Homo sapiens: one gene and its partner. The protein of the gene in region 1 purifies or fractionates together with the protein of each later gene. This does not show direct contact. Each region holds a gene or a part of one and is shown in the gene's direction. Other genes may lie near its edges.

What was found. Proteins that work in one complex are often made in the same cells at the same time.
Region 2: the proteins of PIPOX (region 1) and LALBA purify together in Homo sapiens (affinity purification with mass spectrometry; one large-scale study listed by BioGRID and IntAct). This does not show direct contact.

Annotation. Positions count from the first base shown.
Region 1 is NC_000017.11:29,052,653-29,056,085, forward strand, and holds part of PIPOX (peroxisomal sarcosine oxidase), read left to right. Parts: intron 1-267; coding exon 268-481; intron 482-760; coding exon 761-943; intron 944-1,892; coding exon 1,893-2,039; intron 2,040-2,410; coding exon 2,411-2,569; intron 2,570-3,160; coding exon 3,161-3,236; intron 3,237-3,433. UniProt on the Homo sapiens protein: Metabolizes sarcosine and L-pipecolic acid.
Region 2 is NC_000012.12:48,566,621-48,571,923, reverse strand, and holds LALBA (alpha-lactalbumin precursor), read left to right. Parts: upstream 1-1,877; 5' UTR 1,878-1,903; coding exon 1,904-2,036; intron 2,037-2,683; coding exon 2,684-2,842; intron 2,843-3,331; coding exon 3,332-3,407; intron 3,408-3,906; coding exon 3,907-3,967; 3' UTR 3,968-4,240; downstream 4,241-5,303. UniProt on the Homo sapiens protein: Regulatory subunit of lactose synthase, changes the substrate specificity of galactosyltransferase in the mammary gland making glucose a good acceptor substrate for this enzyme. This enables LS to synthesize lactose, the major carbohydrate component of milk.

The DNA of each region.
Region 1 (3,433 bases):
TGGCTAAAGTGATCCTCTCACCTCAGCCTCCCAAATAGCTGGGATCACAGGCATGTGACACCATGCTTGGCTACTTTTTAAAAATTTTTTACTTTTTGCAGAGACAGGGTCTCATGATATTGCCCAGGCTGCTAGTGAACAAATTAGTGGCCTCAAGTCATCCTCCTGCCTCAGCCTCCTGAAGTGCTGGGATTACAGGCGTGAGTCGTCACATCAGGCCCAGGATTTTGAAACACACCTTCACCTAGGTGACTTATTTTTTAACAGGCAGACTGGATTACTGCTGCTGGGAATGAAAGAGAATCAAGAATTAAAGACAATCCAGGCCAATCTGTCGAGGCAGAGGGTAGAACACCAGTGTCTTTCATCTGAGGAACTGAAGCAACGTTTCCCAAATATTCGGTTGCCCAGGGGAGAAGTGGGGCTCTTGGACAATTCCGGAGGAGTTATCTATGCATATAAGGCCCTCAGAGCCCTGCAGGTAATGTCGTATAGCACTGGGGCGATGCAGGTGCTCCCTGCTCTGGGTGTCCTGGGTCCCAAGCAGCCAGCCCAAGACCCCCCTCTGGATGAGGCCTTTGCCCTGCAGGCTTTAGTCTTGACTTTTCCAGCAGGGCAGTGAAATATATGCGGCTGGCCTTGTCAATACAGGACAGGTCTAGATTCTGCACTCTTTTCTGCCCCAGGCAAAAGGCTTTCTGTCCACCAGGGTGAACCACATACAGAACTAATTCACCTTTCCCTGCTCCTGCCCTTTCAGGATGCAATTCGACAGCTAGGAGGCATAGTGCGTGACGGAGAGAAGGTGGTGGAGATAAACCCAGGGCTACTGGTCACGGTGAAAACCACCTCCAGGAGCTACCAAGCTAAGAGCTTGGTCATCACAGCAGGTCCTTGGACCAACCAGCTCCTCCGTCCCCTGGGCATTGAGATGCCTCTCCAGGTAAGAGGAGCTGGAAGCCCGAGAGTTGGTGCTCAAGAGAAGCCTTGGAACCAGATGGAGTCAAATTTGAGTCCTGGATCTGCCTCTTGCTAGTGGACAACCTTGGGCACATTCATTCACCTCACCGAGCCTCAGTTTTATCATCTGTAATATGGGGGATGATAGCTACCTCATAGGGCTGTTGGAGAATTAAATTATTAGGCTGGTGCAAAAGTAATTGCAGTTTTACCGTTCAAAGTCATGGCAAAAACCACAATTACTTTTGCACTAACCTAATATATGCTGTATATAAAGCCTTTAAGAGGCCGGATGTGGTGGCTGACACCTGTAATTCCAGCACTCTGGAAGACCAAAGCAGGAGAATTTCTTGAGCCCAGGAGTTCAAGACCAGCCTGGGCAATATGGCGAGACCCTGTTTCTACAAAAACTAAGAAAAATTAGCCAGGTGTAGTGGCGTGTGCTTGTAGTCCCAGCTACTTGGGAGGCTGAGCCCAGGAGGCTGGCCTGAGCCCAGGAGGTTGAGGCTGCAATGAGTCGTGATTCTACCACTGCATTCCAGTCTGGGTGACAGAGCAAGACCCTGTCTCAATAAAATAAAATAAAATAAAATAAAAATAAAGCCCTTAGGACATAACCTGGCTTATAGTAAGCACTCAATAAACCTGAGGTCTTATTAATTCCCGAAAAGAGACAGAAATATGGCTGGGGGCTGGGTGTAGTTATGGGAGAAAACTAAGAATGGGAGAAGAGACAGAGGCTCAGAGATGTTTGTGCATCATAACACATGTAACAGGTAAACAACATGAGAAGTGGGAGAGACAAACATGGATGAGTTCAACTGGGTGTCCAGGCTTGTGTTAGAGGGCCGCAGGGGCCCAGAGAAACTGCTTTCATTGCTGTAGAGTTCCATGGCTTTTCTTCATTTCCCACTTCCTCTCCCTGCCTCAAGACCCTGCGGATCAACGTGTGTTACTGGCGAGAGATGGTTCCTGGGAGCTATGGTGTGTCCCAGGCCTTTCCGTGCTTCCTGTGGCTGGGCTTGTGTCCCCACCACATCTACGGACTGCCCACAGGAGAGTACCCAGGGCTGATGAAGGTGAGCGGAAAGACCGAGATAAGGCAGGTAGATGCCAGTGCAGATTAGGGGAAGCTGCTCTAACTTTCCCCTCCATAGATGCCCTTGGGTCTCGGGGCCAGCAGCAGGAGCCTGCTTCACTCATGGCGATTTGCAAGGAAAGACCCTCAGCTGCCCTGAGGCCCAGCAAAAGGAGCCCTTCCTTTGCAAACATAGGGTGGTTGCAGGGACCAACAGCTAAGCAGCCTCAGGTGACAGCCCACAGCACCTGCCAGGAGTGGGGAAGGCTGGAATGATGGATGGGGCTGTCCTGTGTACACGCCTGCCCTTCGGCTGTGGGTGTGTGTGGAAGGCCAGCCCTCACCACTCATGCCACTCTGATTGGGAGCCAGGTCAGCTATCACCACGGCAACCACGCAGACCCTGAGGAGCGGGACTGCCCCACAGCACGCACAGACATCGGAGACGTCCAGATCCTGAGCAGCTTTGTCAGAGATCACTTACCTGATCTGAAGCCCGAGCCTGCTGTCATTGAGAGCTGCATGTACACGGTAAGGGGTCTGGGCAGCCTTGCTGGGCCCCCTCACCACTCTACAGAAGGGAAGAAGGAGACAGACCTTGCACTGGCCAGGCCCGATTGTTTGACCCCTGACATAGTGTGTGACTTTAAACAAACGGGCTCATTTCTGTGGGTAGGTTCACCTCTACCAGGGAGGGTCCTGTTCGAAATTATTCCTATTCTTCTTCATTAGGAAACTAGGTTATGCCTGGCAGTCGGTCCTTCACTCTGATTCCCAGAAGAGCTCTAAAAGATTTTCTGGCAAGCTCCTCCAGTTGAGCAGGCCTTAGGGACAAAGAGAAGAGACAGATGTCACCACGGCCTAAGGCATCTTGGCTAAAGTTAGTTTACAAAGATTAACTGAACACCTACTGTGTTCGTAGCTCTGTGCGAGAAGAAAGGCAGCCGGACAAATGAAAAAGACTGGCACACCCAGAGGGGCACGGGCATGCGGAAAGCATCCTTGTGCCTCATTCCATCCTTTCTGGAAAGAAATCCAGCCCATCCCCTTCCAGTTAGAGCCTGCAGTTCTTTCTCTTCCCTCGAGCCTCAAAGAACACAAGGTGTGACTGTTTCTTTCTAGAATACCCCTGATGAGCAGTTCATTCTCGATCGCCACCCAAAGTATGACAACATTGTCATTGGTGCTGGATTCTCTGGTGAGTCTGAGCTGGGGGGAATGGGGTGCCTTAAAGCTGACCTACCTCAGTGCCAGGTGAAATGGTATTTTCCACACTCTTAGCTGCCCAGATAGGTGTGAAGCCTGGACATTGTAGGTATAAGGAGGCTGGGCAGTCAGAAAAGGGGTATTCATGGTGGGAGGCCACTTCTGGCTTTGGGATGTGACCAGGAGGAC
Region 2 (5,303 bases), on another chromosome or scaffold:
ATGTATCTCTTGCTATCAGAACTTTCTGCTCATCCCTTCTGGCACACCAAGATCCTCCACATTCCCTTCACTCATGCCACTTCATATACTGGTTATCCATGGTACAGAAGACAGGATTTAACTGAGAGGACTTTTCCCTGACTCTGAATACATGTAGGAGATAACGATATGGAAGACCTTCAGTATGTAAGTCTTAAATAGATTGGTTGGGATAAATGTTCCCTGAAACATAAGAAACAGCGCAGCGGCTCCTGTCTGTAATCCTAGCACTTTGGGAGGCCGAGGCCCAGGCAGGCAAATTGCCTGAGCTCAGAAGTTTGAGACCAGCCTGGCCAACATGCAGAAACTCCGTCTCTACTAAAAATACATAAATTAACCGGGCATGGTAACACGTGCCTGTAGTCCCAGCTACTCGGGAGGCTGAGGCAGGAGAATCACTTGAGCCTGGGAGGCAGAGGTTGCAGTGAGCCAAGATCGCGCCACTGCATTCCAGCCTGGGCAACAGAGTGAGACTTGGTCAAAAAAAAAAAAAAAAAAGGAAGAAGAAGAAGAAATCAGGTTTAGAGATGAGGACAAAGAAGACGAATGGTGGCATGAAGGAGCTAAGAGCTACTTGTCACCATGACATGAAGCTTCATGCCAGCAAATTAAAGGAGCTATTCAGAACTAGTATCCTCAACTCTACTTGCTCAGGGGCACTGACCTTATAGAGATTCCAGACATAAGCTTGTTCAGCCTTAAAGTCCAATCTTTCCACTGGCTTGGGTCCTTCCCACTTTCTGTGGCCAACTCTGAGGTTGTCTACAAGTTATTGGTCTTAGATTTATGTAATGTCTCAATGCCAGTGTAGTATTTGGTTATTTACGGTAGGAGTGGTTAGGGGTGGGGAATCTGATAATAGCTCGTAGGATAGCTAGATTCTTTTTTTTTTTTTTTTTTTTTAAAGATAGGGTCTCACTTTGTCTCCCAGGATGGATGGAGTGCAGTGGAGTGAACATGGCTCACTGCAGCCTCGACCTCCTGTGCTCAAGTGTTCCTCCTGCCTCAGCCCCTCAAGTAGCTGGGACTACAGGCACATGTCACCATGCCCAGCTAATTTTTTTTGTAGAGATGGGATTTTACCATGTTGCCCAGGCTGGTCTCGAGCTCCTGGGCTCAAGTGATCCACCAGACTCGGCCTCCCAAAATGCCGGGATTACAGGTGTGAGCCACTGTGCCTGGCCTAGATGCTTTCATACAGGCTTTTCAATTATGCATTTTCCTTAAGTAGGAAGTCTTAAGATCCAAGTTATATCGGATTGTTGTAGTCTACGTTCCCATATTCTATTCCTATTTCTGAGCCTTCAGTCATGAGCTACCATATTAAAGAACTAATTCTGGGCCTTGTTACATGGCTGGATTGGTTGGACAAGTGCCAGCTCTGATCCTGGGACTGTGGCATGTGATGACATACACCCCCTCTCCACATTCTGCATGTCTCTAGGGGGGAAGGGGGAAGCTCGGTATAGAACTTTATTGTATTTTCTGATTGCCTCACTTCTTATATTGCCCCCATGCCCTTCTTTGTTCCTCAAGTAACCAGAGACAGTGCTTCCCAGAACCAACCCTACAAGAAACAAAGGGCTAAACAAAGCCAAATGGGAAGCAGGATCATGGTTTGAACTCTTTCTGGCCAGAGAACAATACCTGCTATGGACTAGATACTGGGAGAGGGAAAGGAAAAGTAGGGTGAATTATGGAAGGAAGCTGGCAGGCTCAGCGTTTCTGTCTTGGCATGACCAGTCTCTCTTCATTCTCTTCCTAGATGTAGGGCTTGGTACCAGAGCCCCTGAGGCTTTCTGCATGAATATAAATAAATGAAACTGAGTGATGCTTCCATTTCAGGTTCTTGGGGGTAGCCAAAATGAGGTTCTTTGTCCCTCTGTTCCTGGTGGGCATCCTGTTCCCTGCCATCCTGGCCAAGCAATTCACAAAATGTGAGCTGTCCCAGCTGCTGAAAGACATAGATGGTTATGGAGGCATCGCTTTGCCTGAATGTGAGTTCCCTGCCTCTGTGTTTCATCCATTCCTCATACGCTTCTCTCCTCCATCCCCTCTTTCTTCCACTTCGCCCCTCCACTTTTACTTAATTATCTAATCATCCTCTTTTCTGCTCATTTGCATACTCTTTTATTTCATGTATGTATATATGTATGTATTTATTTATTTTTGAGGTGGAGTTTCGCTCTTGTTGCCCAGACTGGAGTGCAATGGTGTAATCTCGGCTCACTGCAACCTCCGCCTCCTCGGTTCAAGTGATTCTCCTGCCTCAGCCTCCCAAGTAGCTGGAATTACAGGCACCCACCACCATGCCTGGCTAATTTTGTATTTTTTGTAGAGACAGGGTTTCACCATGTTGGCCAGGCTGGTCTCAAACTTCTGACCTCAGGTGATCCGCCCTCCTCAGCCTCCCAAAGTGTTGGGATTACAAGCGTGAGCCATCATGCCTGGCCCCATTTATTTTCCTATCCTTTCTTTCTCTTATTGTCTGATTTTTTTTTGGAATTCTCCATCTCATCAAGAAACTCTGAGCTTTGCCATCTTTGGAGATTGGCTGGAAAGCATTTTTGTCTGAGAATTACAGTTCCTCCTTTATGCAGATCCTGTACATCTCTGTGGTATCTCTTTCTCATCTTTCCCTCAGTGATCTGTACCATGTTTCACACCAGTGGTTATGACACACAAGCCATAGTTGAAAACAATGAAAGCACGGAATATGGACTCTTCCAGATCAGTAATAAGCTTTGGTGCAAGAGCAGCCAGGTCCCTCAGTCAAGGAACATCTGTGACATCTCCTGTGACAGTGAGTAGCCCCTATAACCCTCTTTCTCTGTTTTTCTGAGGCCTGCCCTTGGGATAATCTCCTTTTTAGTGCCAAGCAGACCTCAGGCTTCATTGCCTTGGCTGGGCTCTATAAAAATTGTGGGACTTGAATTGGCAGTACTGAGTAAGAAGCTGTTTGGATTTTTCATGGTCATCAAATCCCCAGACAGTTCCTTGAGGTTCAGTGGTAGACAATCGGAGCTGTCTGAGAGTCTTGGAATCTGATTGTCTGCATTTTCAGGGTAAGTCAGTTGATGAAGCTGATGATTCCTCCAGAGATATCCCAGGGAAATGAAGGAAGTCCCTACCCAGGGTTAGACATTACCACATTGGTCCTTTCATATAGAAAGACAACAGGCACAAGCCTTGAGTTTAGAGAACCCACTGGATCCAGGGGTTAGGGGAACTCAGTGCCTTTCTGGGTAATACTTGTCAGCTGTCTCAATCCTTTCCCTGTAACTCCTGCCAGAGTTCCTGGATGATGACATTACTGATGACATAATGTGTGCCAAGAAGATCCTGGATATTAAAGGAATTGACTACTGGTGAATCCTTATTCTATTTTCTATTTCCCCATCCTCCTTCTCCTTACCCCATTAGCCCAGCACCCCTTTCCTCTTACCCTATCTCTTGGTCATTTAATCTAGAATACAGTGTCTGAAACAAAGCTTACCTAGAGACTCAGGTTTCTGTTATTAAGCCTCTCTCGCTCCGCTCCTTGGTAGCAATTTTCCTAATAAGGGGTTGCCTAATGGAGGGCTCAGACCCAGGCCTCCTTTCACTTAGACTTGGACATCTAATTCCACTTGTTTAGTTCTATGCCCTAAAGCAAGCTGTTGGTAACATTGCATCTCTTTTTTAACCCTACAATTTTCTTGGATATTTTTTATGGACTGTATTCCACTTGATGGCTTGTGTCGCTTGACATCAGGCCAGGAATGTCTTTCTGTAATTCTCGTCCACGCTCTTCCACTTCAGCCCTCCTGGGAATGAATGTAAAGATTCAGTCAGCTAACTCACCTTGTCCCCCTTCTCCATTATCAGGTTGGCCCATAAAGCCCTCTGCACTGAGAAGCTGGAACAGTGGCTTTGTGAGAAGTTGTGAGTGTCTGCTGTCCTTGGCACCCCTGCCCACTCCACACTCCTGGAATACCTCTTCCCTAATGCCACCTCAGTTTGTTTCTTTCTGTTCCCCCAAAGCTTATCTGTCTCTGAGCCTTGGGCCCTGTAGTGACATCACCGAATTCTTGAAGACTATTTTCCAGGGATGCCTGAGTGGTGCACTGAGCTCTAGACCCTTACTCAGTGCCTTCGATGGCACTTTCACTACAGCACAGATTTCACCTCTGTCTTGAATAAAGGTCCCACTTTGAAGTCACTGGCTGTAATTTTTTTCCCCCTGGAGGGAAGGGGAAGAAATAGGATGAGTAGGTGGACACTGAAGCCATAGGTCATAGCCACCTTCCATCTCTACTGAAGAAGAAGTAGGCTGAATTTACAATAGAAAGGTGAAGGTTACTGTCTGTACCAACTCAATGCAACAAACTTTTATTGATCACCTAATCTATTCAAGGAACTGTAGACGGATCCAAAGTTGGCTAAACACTGGCCGGGTGCAGTGCTTCCACCTGTAATTCCAGCACTTTGGAAGGCTGAGGTGGGCAGATTGCTTGAGGTCAGGAGTTTGAGACCAGCTTGGCTAACAGCAAAACCCTGTCTCTACCAAAAGTACAAAAATTATCTGGGTGTGGTGGCAGGCGCCTGTAATCCCAGCTACTCGGGAGGCTGAGGCAGAAGAATTGTTTGAACCTGGGAGGCAGAGGTTGTAGTGAGCTGAGATCGCGTCATTGCGCTCTAGCCTGGGTGCTCCATCTCAAAAAACAAAAACAAAAACAAAAAACAAAAACACAAAGTTGGCTGAATAGCCTTTTCCCTCAAGGACTAATGGGAAAGACAAGATAAACATTAATAAATAGTTACAATATAAGGAAGAGAGTTATAAGCATCATGAGAGAGGTTAGAAATGTGCGCTGGGCATTCACAAAAGGAAAGATAACTTATCTTTGGAGGGGATGTTGGGAAAAAGGAATCAAGAAAGGGTTCCTGAAAGGGAGAGCATTTAGGCTGGTTTTAAAGTCTGTGTGGGATTTTGACAAGTGGAGATGTGGGGTGGGAAAAGGAAGAGCATGGACGGGAACCCAAGAATCTGAAATGGGTGACTTGTTGAAGGATTTCTTTATCCTTCATGAGGAGCTGTGAAGGGAACCCTTCCTGTCTCTGGAAACCAGAGAGAGAACAGGGACCTTGACAGTCAGCACAGTGGTGCTGAAGAATCTGAGAAAATGGGACCTTTTGGTTTGGACCCTCCACTCCATTATTTCTTCTTGTGCTGTGCTTGGTTTTTAAGGAGAATATTTGCAGAACTTCATTCATTTAAATAA